Linked DNA regions of Homo sapiens. The protein of the gene in region 1 purifies or fractionates together with the protein of each later gene. This does not show direct contact. Each region holds a gene or a part of one and is shown on either strand. Other genes may lie near its edges. The genes, in order: ACOT7, GOT2 and PNMA8A.

Evidence for each region.
Region 2: the proteins of ACOT7 (region 1) and GOT2 purify together in Homo sapiens (affinity purification with mass spectrometry, with the first as the bait; one study listed by BioGRID). This does not show direct contact.
Region 3: the proteins of ACOT7 (region 1) and PNMA8A purify together in Homo sapiens (affinity purification with mass spectrometry, with the first as the bait; one study listed by BioGRID). This does not show direct contact.

What each region holds. Positions count from the first base shown.
Region 1 is NC_000001.11:6,338,182-6,341,828, forward strand, and holds part of ACOT7 (cytosolic acyl coenzyme A thioester hydrolase), read right to left. Parts: intron 1,409-3,647; coding exon 1,252-1,408; intron 1-1,251. UniProt on the Homo sapiens protein: Catalyzes the hydrolysis of acyl-CoAs into free fatty acids and coenzyme A (CoASH), regulating their respective intracellular levels.
Region 2 is NC_000016.10:58,706,605-58,710,351, reverse strand, and holds the end of GOT2 (aspartate aminotransferase, mitochondrial isoform 1 precursor), read left to right. Parts: intron 1-784; coding exon 785-935; intron 936-2,058; coding exon 2,059-2,181; 3' UTR 2,182-3,221; downstream 3,222-3,747. UniProt on the Homo sapiens protein: Catalyzes the irreversible transamination of the L-tryptophan metabolite L-kynurenine to form kynurenic acid (KA). As a member of the malate-aspartate shuttle, it has a key role in the intracellular NAD(H) redox balance.
Region 3 is NC_000019.10:46,469,433-46,473,179, forward strand, and holds the start of PNMA8A (paraneoplastic antigen-like protein 8A), read right to left. Parts: upstream 2,132-3,747; 5' UTR 1,905-2,131; intron 1,683-1,904; 5' UTR 1,604-1,682; coding exon 301-1,603; coding exon of another isoform or gene 230-300; intron 1-229.

The DNA.
Region 1 (3,647 bases):
AGCAGGAAGGTCCTAGGAAGCAGGAGAGCGCGGCAGGCCATCCCTCCTCTCCAGGAAGGGGCCAAGGCTCCACCCCCAGCACAGTCGGAGAAGAGCTGCGATCTCACAGGAGATGGCAGGGAACCCCCAAGGCCCCTAAAGTGGGGAACCCACCCAGCCCTGAGCCTCTCCCGAGTCGTGGGCGCTGCTCCTGTTGTGGGAGGTGCCCATACACCCCTTCCTGGGCCACATCCTGAGACCAGCATCCAGGGTCCCTCTGATGTCAGAGGTGCCTGCTGAGGGAGCAGCAGGCAATGGGAACGCAGACCACCTTCCACCCCAGGCCCTTGCTCAGCTCCATCTGCCCACCTGCCGGAGCTGGGCTGACACAGCCATTCTAATCAACCCTGCTGAGGTCCTCAGAATGTTCTAGATGCATAATCGTGCTTGCTACCGGCCCGTCATGAGGAAGAGGACTCAAGCCCCTCAAATGGCTGTGAGCTGGCACTCCACGGGGCAGCCACTGCTGAGGAACAGGCATGGGGAAGAGGAGGAAACCGGCCCAGCCTCTCTGCATGGGAGGACTGGTGACCTGGGAGGTGGCAGGGAGAGGACCAGGGGCAGGGGAAGAGGCCCGCCTTCCCCCTCACCTCCCGTCCCCAGCCTGGGTATAAAAAGAAGCGTGAGCTGGTGAACACTGGAGCCGCCCCCTCCTGCAGCGCCCAGTGGGAAGGGGAAGGGGGTTTCCATGGTTACCATGGCCAAGGAGGAGAATATTCAGATGAAAGCAGAGGCAAAGGTTCACCCAGTGAGCTTCCATCTGAGCCTGGTTTCTGGGGCTCCCAGGAGCAAGCACTGTCCTCTCTGGAGCCAACACCTCCCTACGCTTGAGGAGGGCAAGCAGGGCAGGGAGACCTGCAGAGGGGTGGATGGTGCGTACCGGCCTCACAGCCCGCGCCCAGCCCCTGCCATGGATGAGCTGGCCACGGGCAGCAGGACAGGCAGCATGATGTGCTCAGGCCGGACCCAGACAGCAGGGTTGAGTCCTGCTCTGGGTAACTGAACTCGTTTCCTAACCCCTCTGTGCCCCTTTCCTGTCTGCAAAATCAGGGCAATGGACATAGCTGCTCCCAGGGCCATGGTGGGAGGTGAGAGAGGTCTCATTGGTGGAAAAGGGGCCAGGCCCTGGAGCGTCCTCTGCCCTCAGGAGGGAAGCAGCTGTGTAGCCACGGCCCTTACTGCTCCAGTCAACACTGTCGCTCCCAGAAGTACCTGTGAGGATGTTTTCGGACATCACGTTGACCTGCACCTCCACAGAGTGCTTGGAGGTGTAGGTGATCTCCGCGCTGACATGCGCCACCTCACCGATGCACATGGGAGACAGGAAGTCGGTGCGCTCGACACGAGCCAGGGCGGCCACACAGCGCTCCTGTGGAGACAGAGGCAGTTGTCAGCCCAGGTCAGCCAGCCCAGCCCCGAGAGCCCCACCCAGGACATGCCCCCTGGAAACGGTCTTTGCCTTTGCTTTCATTCCCCACTGTGAAAGCAACCAATGTATCACCATTTATTGGCACCGCGGTTTTTTTTTTTTTTTTTTGAGATGGAGTCTCGCTCTGTCACCCAGGCTGGAGTGCAGTGGCAAGATCTCAGCTCACTGCAAGCTCAGCCTCCCGGGTTCACGACATTCTCCTGCCTCAGCCTCCCGAGTAGCTAGGACTACAGGCGCCCGCTGGGACTACAGCGGGCCTTCCGAGTAGCTGGGACTACAGCCACCACGCCCAGCTAATTTTTTGTTTTTTTGTTTTGTTTTGTTTTTTGTTTTTGAGATGGAGTCTCGCTCTGTCACCCAGGCTGGAGTGCAGTGGTGCGATCTCCCCTCACTGCAAGCGCCGCCTCCCAGATTCACGCCATTCTCCTGCCTCAGCCTCCCGAGTAGCTGGGACTACAGGCGCCCGCCACCATGCCCGGCTAATTTTTTTGTATTTTTAGTAGAGACGGGGTTTCTCCATGTTAGCCAGAATGGTCTCAATCTCCTGACCTCGTGATCCGCCCGCCTCGGCCTCCCAAAGTGCTGGGATTACAGGCATGAGCCACCGCGCCCGGCCTAGCACCGCGCATTCCTAAACACAAAAGCACAGGGATGTAGAGGAGCCCTGCAGAGTCCAGCCCAAAGCAACTGCTGCAGGCGATTCCCCAAGTGATGGGATCACCAGCTGCTTCTTCCTTTCTTCTGATTTTCTCACAATAGGCATGCATTATTTGCTTAATATAAAGTGAACAAATGCATACATACCCATTATGGAAAATTTGGGAAATACAGAAAAGTAGAAAGAAGGGGAACGTCACTCCTCCCATTCAAAGATAACCATGGTTACTATTTTGGGATCTGTCTTTCCAGGCTTTTTTCCCAAGAATCGGGGTGGGTTTTGTTGTCTCACTTGTTCGTCTGCCTGGCTCGTTTCACAGTTTTAGTCTAATATAGCTGTGCAAAAACTAAGTATACACCCTCACCTTCTGATTCTTTTTCATTCAACGTAGGAAAAATAATCTGCCTGTGTTGTGACACATTCTTTGCAATCACTATTCTTCTTTAGGCCGGGCGCGGTGGCTCATGACTATAATTCCAGAACTTTGGGAGGCCGAGGTGGGCGGATCACATGAGGCCAGGAGTTCGAGACCAGCCTGGCCAACATGGTGAAACTCCATCTCTACTAAAAATACAAAAGTTACCCGGGCGTGGCGGTGCACATCTGTAATCCCAGCTACTCAGGAGACTGAGGTATGAGAATCAGGTGAACTCGGGACGGGGAGGTTGCAGTGAGCTGAGATTGCGCCACTGCACTCCAGCCTGGGTGACAGAGCAAGACTCCATCTCAAAAACAACAACAACAACAAAACACTAAATACACTCTCACCTTGATTCTTTTTCATTCAGTATGGGAAAAATAATCTGCCCGTGTTGTGACATGGCTCTTTGCAATCACTATTCTTTTTTTTTTGAGATGGAGTCTCACTCTGTTGCCCAGACTGGAATGCAGTGGTGCAATCTCGGTTCACTGCAACCTCCGCCTCCAGGATTCAGGCAATTCTCCTGCCTCAGCCTCCTGAGTAGCTGGGATTACAGATGTGCACCACCACGCCTGGCTAATTTCTGTATTTTTAGTAAAGACGGGGTTTTACCATGTTGGCCTCAAACTCTTGACTTCAGATGATCCGCCTGCCTCATCCTCCCAAAGTGCTGGGATTACAGGCGTGAGCCACCGTGCCCGGCCCAACTATTCTTTTTAAAAATTTAAAAGTGGCCAGGTGTGGTGGCTCACGCCTGTAATCCCAGCACTTCGGGAGGCCAAGGCGGGTGGATCACACGGTCAGGAGATCGAGACCATCCTGGCTAACATGGTGAAACCCCGTCTCTACTAAAAATACAAAAAATTAGCCGGGTGTGGTGGTGGGTGCCTGTAGTCCCAGTTACTCGGGAGGCTGAGGCAGGAGAATGGCGTGAACCCGGGAGGCGGAGCTTGCAGTGAGCCAAGATCGCACCACTGCGCTCCAGCCTGGGCGACAGAGCGAGACTCCGTCTCAAAAAAAAAAATTTTTTTCAATGTTATTTATCCTTCAAATAGGCGACCCATTCTCATGATTCAAAATGTAAAAGGAACAAAAAAGCC
Region 2 (3,747 bases), on another chromosome or scaffold:
GCTACTTGGGAGGCTGAGGCAGGAGGATCACTTGAGCCTGGAAGATTGAGGCTGCAGTGAGCCATGATCATACCATTGTACTATCCAGCCTGGGTGATAGACTGAGACTGGGTGATGGACTGTATCTGAAAAAAAGAAAAAGAAAAAGAAAATGGGCCAGGCGTGGTGGCTCACACCTGTAATCCCGGCACTCTGGGAGGCCTAGGCAGGAGGATTGCTTGAACCTTGGAGTTTGTAACCAAACCGCGCAACATGGCAAAACCCCATCTCTACATTAAAAGAAAATTCATTTAATACACTTAACCTACCAAACATCATAGCTTACCCTAGCATACTTTAAACATGCTCAGAACAGGTATTAAACTACAGTTAAGCAAAATCATCTAACACAAAGCCATTTTATAACAGAGTGCTGAATGTCTCATGTAATTTATTCAATACTGTACTGAAAGAAACAAAATGGCTGTATGGGTACTTAAAGTACGGTTTCTATTGAATGTATATTGCATTTGTGCCATCATGAAGTTGAAAAGTTGTAAGTCAAGGACTGTCTCTACTCAAGTGTGTTAACTGCTTCAGTTGCCTTATGGAAATAGTGTTCCAATATAAAACAGAATGCTATAAAATAGCTTTCTTCCCTGGCCAGTGACAGCGTGTCACTCATTCGTGACCTGAGAATTGAGGCACACTAGGGGACTGCTCAAGGGAGGTAAAAATGCAGTGAACTCCAGCATATCGGTCAGTGCTTAGGCAGAATGAGCTGCATCTCAGGGTTTCTTTACAGGCTGCAAGAAGTGAAAGTCATGGCTGACCGCATCATTGGCATGCGGACTCAACTGGTCTCCAACCTCAAGAAGGAGGGTTCCACCCACAATTGGCAACACATCACCGACCAAATTGGCATGTTCTGTTTCACAGGGCTAAAGCCTGAACAGGTGAGTGATTCTGATTTCTCTGCAGCAGACCAGCTGATCAGTCTTTGCAAACCCGAAGGATTACTTTTTTTTCTTTTTTCTTTTTTATTTAATGTTTTCGGGTTTTTTGTTTTGTTTTGTTTTGTTTTGTTTTGTTTTTGTTTTTGTTTTTGTTTTGAGACAGTCTCGCTCTGAAACCCAGGCTGGAGTGCAGTGGTGCAATCTCAGCTCACTGCAACCTCCACCTCCCAGGGCTTAAGTGATCCTCCTGCCTCAGCCTCCCGAGCAGCTGGGACTAGAAGTGAGTGCCACCACACCTGGCTAATTTTTGTATTTTTTGTGGAGACATAGTTTCGCCATGTTGCCCGGGCTTGTCTTGAACTCCTGGACTCAAGCGATCCGCCTGCCTTGGTCTCCCAAACTACTGGGATTACAGGTGTGAGCCACTGAGCCCAGCCCCAGAAGGATTCTTCATAGATCACCCACCTGTTCAAAATTACCCTAAAAACAGTTAAAACAGTTATTTTGGAGCCCTTTTAGGTAAAAGTATTGTAATACTTTTTAGCATTTATTTTGCTTTTTTTTTTTAGTTGTTTACCTCTCTGTATCCCCCATGAACTCACAAACTTCTAAAGAGCAGAGCTTGTTTTGATCATGTTCATAATCACTGTTGCTTCTCCCAAGAGAGCAACAGGAGAAATAGCTGTTTCATAATTGAATCCTGGCTCTGCTGAATCTAAAGGTGTCTTTTTCCCCATCTGTTTATGCATCAGAATTCATCATCCTACTTTAAAGTAGCTTTTTTTTTTTTCTTTTTTTGAGATGGAGTCTCACTGTGTCGCCCAGGCTGGAGTGCATTGGCGCAATCTCGGCTCACTGCAGCCTCTGCCTCCCAGGTTCCAGGTTCCAGGTTCCAGCTATTCTCCTGCCTTAGCCTCCTGAATAGCTGGGATTACAAGTGTGAGCCACCGCCCCAGCCTTAAAGTAGCTTTTTATTCTTATTTTATTCCAAGCTAACAGCAAATTCTGGGAACAGGTTTTAAGCGAGGAAATAGAGCGTTGGTAAGTTGGCTACTGTGCCATGTCAGGCCGGGGAGAATCCCCTGTACCGGGAAGAGGTACCCAAGTTCTTTCCTCTCTGCAGGTGGAGCGGCTGATCAAGGAGTTCTCCATCTACATGACAAAAGATGGCCGCATCTCTGTGGCAGGGGTCACCTCCAGCAACGTGGGCTACCTTGCCCATGCCATTCACCAGGTCACCAAGTAATGTCCCTGGTGCGAGGAAACAGAGACAACCTTTCTGTCTTCAGCCTCTGCTATTGAGAGCTTCACACAGACAATGAGAGAGGGTGGATGGTGGTGAGTGGATCATTTCTTTCAGCCACAGTGTGTAACACTCAGCATTTGAATGTTTCTCAGAAAAGAACATGTAGTGACACAGGGCAGAGGCATCCATGGCTGGCGTCTGGAATATTAAACCAAACTCTCCCCGGTCCTTTTTTCTCCAACTTTTCTCAAAGAGTTTACATGTGCAAGAAAGTCATCGCACCAAAAAACCTGTCAATTATGCCATTGCAATATTTCAGAAGCTTTAACTGAAGTGTCAGGTTCCTCGTGAGAAACAGCACACGTTAGAGGCTTTGAGAGAAGGCCTAGTTCTGTCATGAGTAGTCGGCCTCGTGTCTGTCCTCCCATCTTGGAACAACCTTATCAACAGGCCGCACTGCAGAAATGATGTTTTATGAAAACCAATGAGGCTGCTGCCACTCCAGCAAGGGAAATAATGCAGTTTCCTGTCTTATTTAAGAAAAAGAGAAGGCTCTCTTTTCTCCCTTGTCATTGCCGTTCTTTTCCTTACACGCAAAGATTTTTTAACTATTGCAGATTTTCATCCCATTCTACTGCTTGATTGACCATCAACTCCATCCTATCGAGATTTATTTAAGAATGAAGAACATAATTTTCTGCTGATGCTGTACCCTCACCCTTTTCAGCAAAGAATAGTGGAGAGTAGGAAACTGTACTTTATCTCGGCATCCTCTTGAATGATAGTGCAAGTTTCTCCAGTTGGGATGTTGTCTCTGCCCGGTTGGACCTCCTCCCTTTGTTGAATGTGGTGTGCAGCCTCTCATCTCACACTGTGAGTCCAGCGGCGCAGGGTGGTACCAGGAAAGAGGATATTCTAGGCTTTGCGTGCTGCTAGCTGGGTTCAGGCTTCACCCACTGGAAAGAACCACCATCTGCTCTAACCATGTAGACTTATTGCGGCCTGGTTTCTCTGTTACAATAAAATTACTGTAGACCCAACTACTGTCTACTAAGTTATCTTTTTTCTTTAATGGGAGGAAGGGGTAGGAGTGGGTAAATAAATAAAGGGGTAGGAGTTTGGAATCGTGTAGCTGATCATAAGCCAGTAGATGTATCCACTATTCCAAATATTGGCTGAAGATTCGTCGTTTTCTTCATGTTGCCATTCAGTTTGTCCAGTCCGAAGATGCTGAGAATGTGGGTGTAATCCCTTGGACCTTGTGGGGAACAAGTGGAGTCCCATGAAGGATCCTGTGGATATAGGCAAAGGGTAGAAGGGGTGGAGGAGAAGTGACAACTTCAGTGGTCTATAGGAGCCAAGAAGGTAACGTAAATAAAAAAGTGTTGTGAACTGGATTTAAGTTGATCAGTGGTGATCAACCCTCATCCTCAGCATTGAGGAGCAGTAGTGAAGTGACAGGAGCTGTGAGGATGAACGCCCAAGGTGGTAGGTCTTACATTTTTCAAGAAAAATGGAAATCTTGATTTCTATGGTTGATCTGTTGGTGCTTAAAAGTTGGCAACT
Region 3 (3,747 bases), on another chromosome or scaffold:
GGAAGATGGGTCAGATGGAGTGGCAAATGACCACAGTGACACTCATTGTGGGTTTCCTCTGCCACCTCCTGCCCACCAGATGTCTCCAGCATCGGCCTTCAGGGGCTCCTGGAAGGGCGGTCTGGGCTCTTACCCTCCTCAACTGGTGTGTCATCCACCTCCTGCCATGCACCAGGGTCCTCCTCATCACCCGCTTGACCCACCACCTCCTCGGGCTCCTCTGCCCCACCTGCCACTCCTGCTCCTCCTGCCTCATCCACTTGCTGGCACGAGCCCAGTCACTTCTGCTATCATTCTCACCATTGGTGGCACGCCGAGGAGAGCCTTCTGGCTTGGCCTTCGGACCCCTAGAGGTTGAGGCTGTTGCCTCGGCAGGCTGCTGGCCCCGAGGGGCCTTCTGATCTGATGCCTCCCTTCTTGAGCCTGGCCCTTTCTTTGGCATCACCGGCTTCTTCCTGCCATCTTCTGAGTCAACCAAGACGTAGGAGACAGGGCCCAAGCTCACCTTCTTCTTCTTCCTCATGGGAGCGGGGTTCTTGGCAGACACCCAGGCCACGGCCTTCTTCTTTGGTGGGCTTTCATGGCCACCATCTTGGTCTGACTCAGAGGCGCCTCCTGGGCTCTCGGCTTCTGCCCGGGCATCCTGAGGTGGCTCTCTGGGACCCTTCCAGGCACATTTCGCCATGGGCTTCTTCAAAGCCAACTCCTCCTTATTCACACAGGGCTTTCTGCTGCCCTTGATCGGCTCTGAGATCGCCATGCTTTCAGCATCACCCACCTCAGGATCCTCCAAGTTAGCTGTGCTGTTGGAATTGATGCCTTTGGGTTTTTTCCAGGGCACTGCTTCCTGCCTGGAGTTCTTCTTCTGCTTCTTTCTCCTGGAGCGAGACTTAGCTCCAGCCCTGCGAACCAAAGGTTTGGTAGGCTCATGCTGGTCTTCCGTGGCATTCCAGTTGTTGGGGGTCTCTGCCTTTAAGGCAGAACCCACCTCTGCTGCAAGCCCCGGTTCTTTCTTCACCTTCCTCCCTGCTGCTAAAGCCCAGGCTGCCATCTCCTCGAATTCAGCGGCCTCCTGGGCCCTGGCTTCCTCCCGGCTGCGGATCTCGGCATCCATGCAGAAGATGATCTGCACCACTGCTCCCAGAAGCACCCCCAGAGCTTCTGCCCAGTTCTCTGGGGGCTGATGCTGGTTCTGGGACAGGGTGGGGTGGTTGAGCTGGAGCAGGCGGACCACATCCTCCCAGGTGCGCCCCTCGGCATCCAGGAATTCATTCAGATTTTTTAAAAACTCGGCATCCTGGGTAGGGTCTCTACAGACCACTCTCCAGACACCACCCCTTCCTGGGAATTCACGGGGGATGGTGCTCAGATTCACACCTTCACCAACCTCAATGAGGGCAGCTTTAACATTCTCTTCCCTCACAAAAATCTTGTTGAGCACGCGGTACGGGCCCAGTGGGGAGAGGACCCCATTCAAGGTCTCCTCAATTTCTGCCTGCCCACAGTCCTCTGGGATGCCTGTGACCAACAAGGACCTGTGGATGTCCACTTCCATTCCCCTGCACCAATCCTCCAGAAGGTTCATCGCCATGGTCTTGGACATTTAGCGGCTCTGAACCTACTATGTGTAGTAAATAGTCTATCAGGTGGACGTGGGCTGCAGCGGTCTCCAAACAGTAATCCTGCAAGGTGACAAGGGAGCGAGGTCACGTTCCCAGGAAGATGACCAAGCTCACAGATCCTAGCTGCCCCCTCCGCGGCTGGCCTGCAGGAGGCCTGGCGCTTTCCCAACACCCTCCTCCCCAACCCAGGCCCCGGTGCTCACACGTGTCCCTGAATCTGCAGCAAAAGGCCCTAGGACCCTCCCCCGGGCCTGACGCTCCGCCTGCCCAGCCGGGACTTACTTGGCAGATCAGCCTCCGACCGCCCAGCCAGGCCAAGGAGACGCAGTGGAATGCAGCCGTTTCCCAGTCGCTGGCTCCGGCTACCCCGGCGCCGCTGCTAGAGGCAGAAAGGGCCAAGAAGGCGCCGTCCGCCCCCGCTCCGGCCCAGGCGGGTCACGGGGCGTCCAGACTCGATGCCGTTAGCGGCGAGAAGCCGAGGTTGGCGTCGCAGCGCGCGCCTGCGCACTGGCTCCCGCACCGCCGCTCGGGGGTCTTGGGCTGCGCAGGTGCCGACGTCTCCATGGCAACCGGGCGTGGGTTGCTAGGGCTGAGCCCGGCCGGCGCGCCGGCGCTGCAATTGGACCTAGGGAGCCGGGTGCAAGAGTGGCCTGTTCAGGTCGCAGAGCAAGCGGGTCTGGATACACTCCGGTGGCGCCTCCACGGAGGCCCTCTTTCAACCCAAGTGGGCCTCGCGAACGGGGGTTAGGTCGATGAGAAGCGCCAACACCTATGGCTGCACCCACTGACTGTATTATCCTCTGCCCCACCTGTTGGATTCACCCAACGCAACTCTTGGGAGACACTAGAAATCAAGAAAGGAGGAAAACGAGGCTTTAATCTTCTTGGGTTCCTCCAACAGCAGGTGCAGTTCCTGTTGGGCTTGTAGCCTTCTCTCTTACAAGCTGCTGGGTTCTTCCAGGAATTTCCAGAAACTTCTAGAAATTTCTTAGTCTCCTCCCCGACCCCTTCTAGCATGAGGATAATGCCTCGCCTTTTCTTGTTTCCTCAACGTGATTCAGGGCAGGTTCTTGGCATCCTCCAGGCAGGGGACAATGTTACAGCTCAGTGACTGCCCCTACAGAGAAGTGTTAGTCCAAACTGCAACCATTTTGTAAGCCCTGACTATTTTGCAGATCTTGGTCAAAGTGAAATATTCCACGGGGGTTCGGGCCAATGAGAAACATCCTGCCTAATCACCTGACCACAAGGCGGACAAAGGCCCAGCTAAAGAAACATTATCATACCCTATCGTGCAAAGGCCCAACTGAAGAAACATCCCTATCATATTCTGCTGGGAGAAAGTGCAGAGAACACCACATTCCACCAGAACAAGGGCCAGAACCGCCTCATCATGGAACCATCTTATCAACATCCTGCTGGGCAGCAAACCATACTGCTCAGACCCCTCCCACCCATAACTATAAGTACCCCCAGCCTATAAGCAGCAGTGGGCTCTGGCATTAGGCTGGTTACCCACTTCCACAGGTGTCTGCAGTATACCTGAGTTGCTGTTGAGCCGCCTTCTGTCTGTGTGTCTTTAACCCTCACCTTCCCTCCAAAACCTAACAAGGAGGGCTACCCTCTAGGCAGTGTGCTGAGAATAGCACCTCGGGGCAAGGCTGCAGTCACATTTATACCCACTTTTAATGACGTGCTAATTAAGGGGTGGGTTTTCAGAATTAGCAAATTGGCAGTAACTTATGGGTGTTGCCATGGCAATGGTAAACTGTCATGGTGCTGGCAGGCATGTCTTATGGAGAGAGGCTTTCGGTGCCTTTTCCAGGTTTTGGCCAGTCTTCAATGTGATCCTCAGTGGAGTCCCCTGGGCCTCCTACCTCAACCTTGCTGCCCATGAGCAAGAACTTTGTTAATAGTTTATTAATGCCCAGTGCTGTGGCTCACGCATGTAATCCCAACACTTTGGGAGGCTGAGGAGGGCGGATCACTTGAGCTGGGGAGTTCGAGACCATCCTGGGCAACATGGCAAAACCCCGTCCCTACCAAAAACGCAAAAAATTAGCCAGGTGTGATAGGGGTCACCTGTGGTCTCAGCTATTCGGGAGGCTGAGGTGGGAGGATTGCT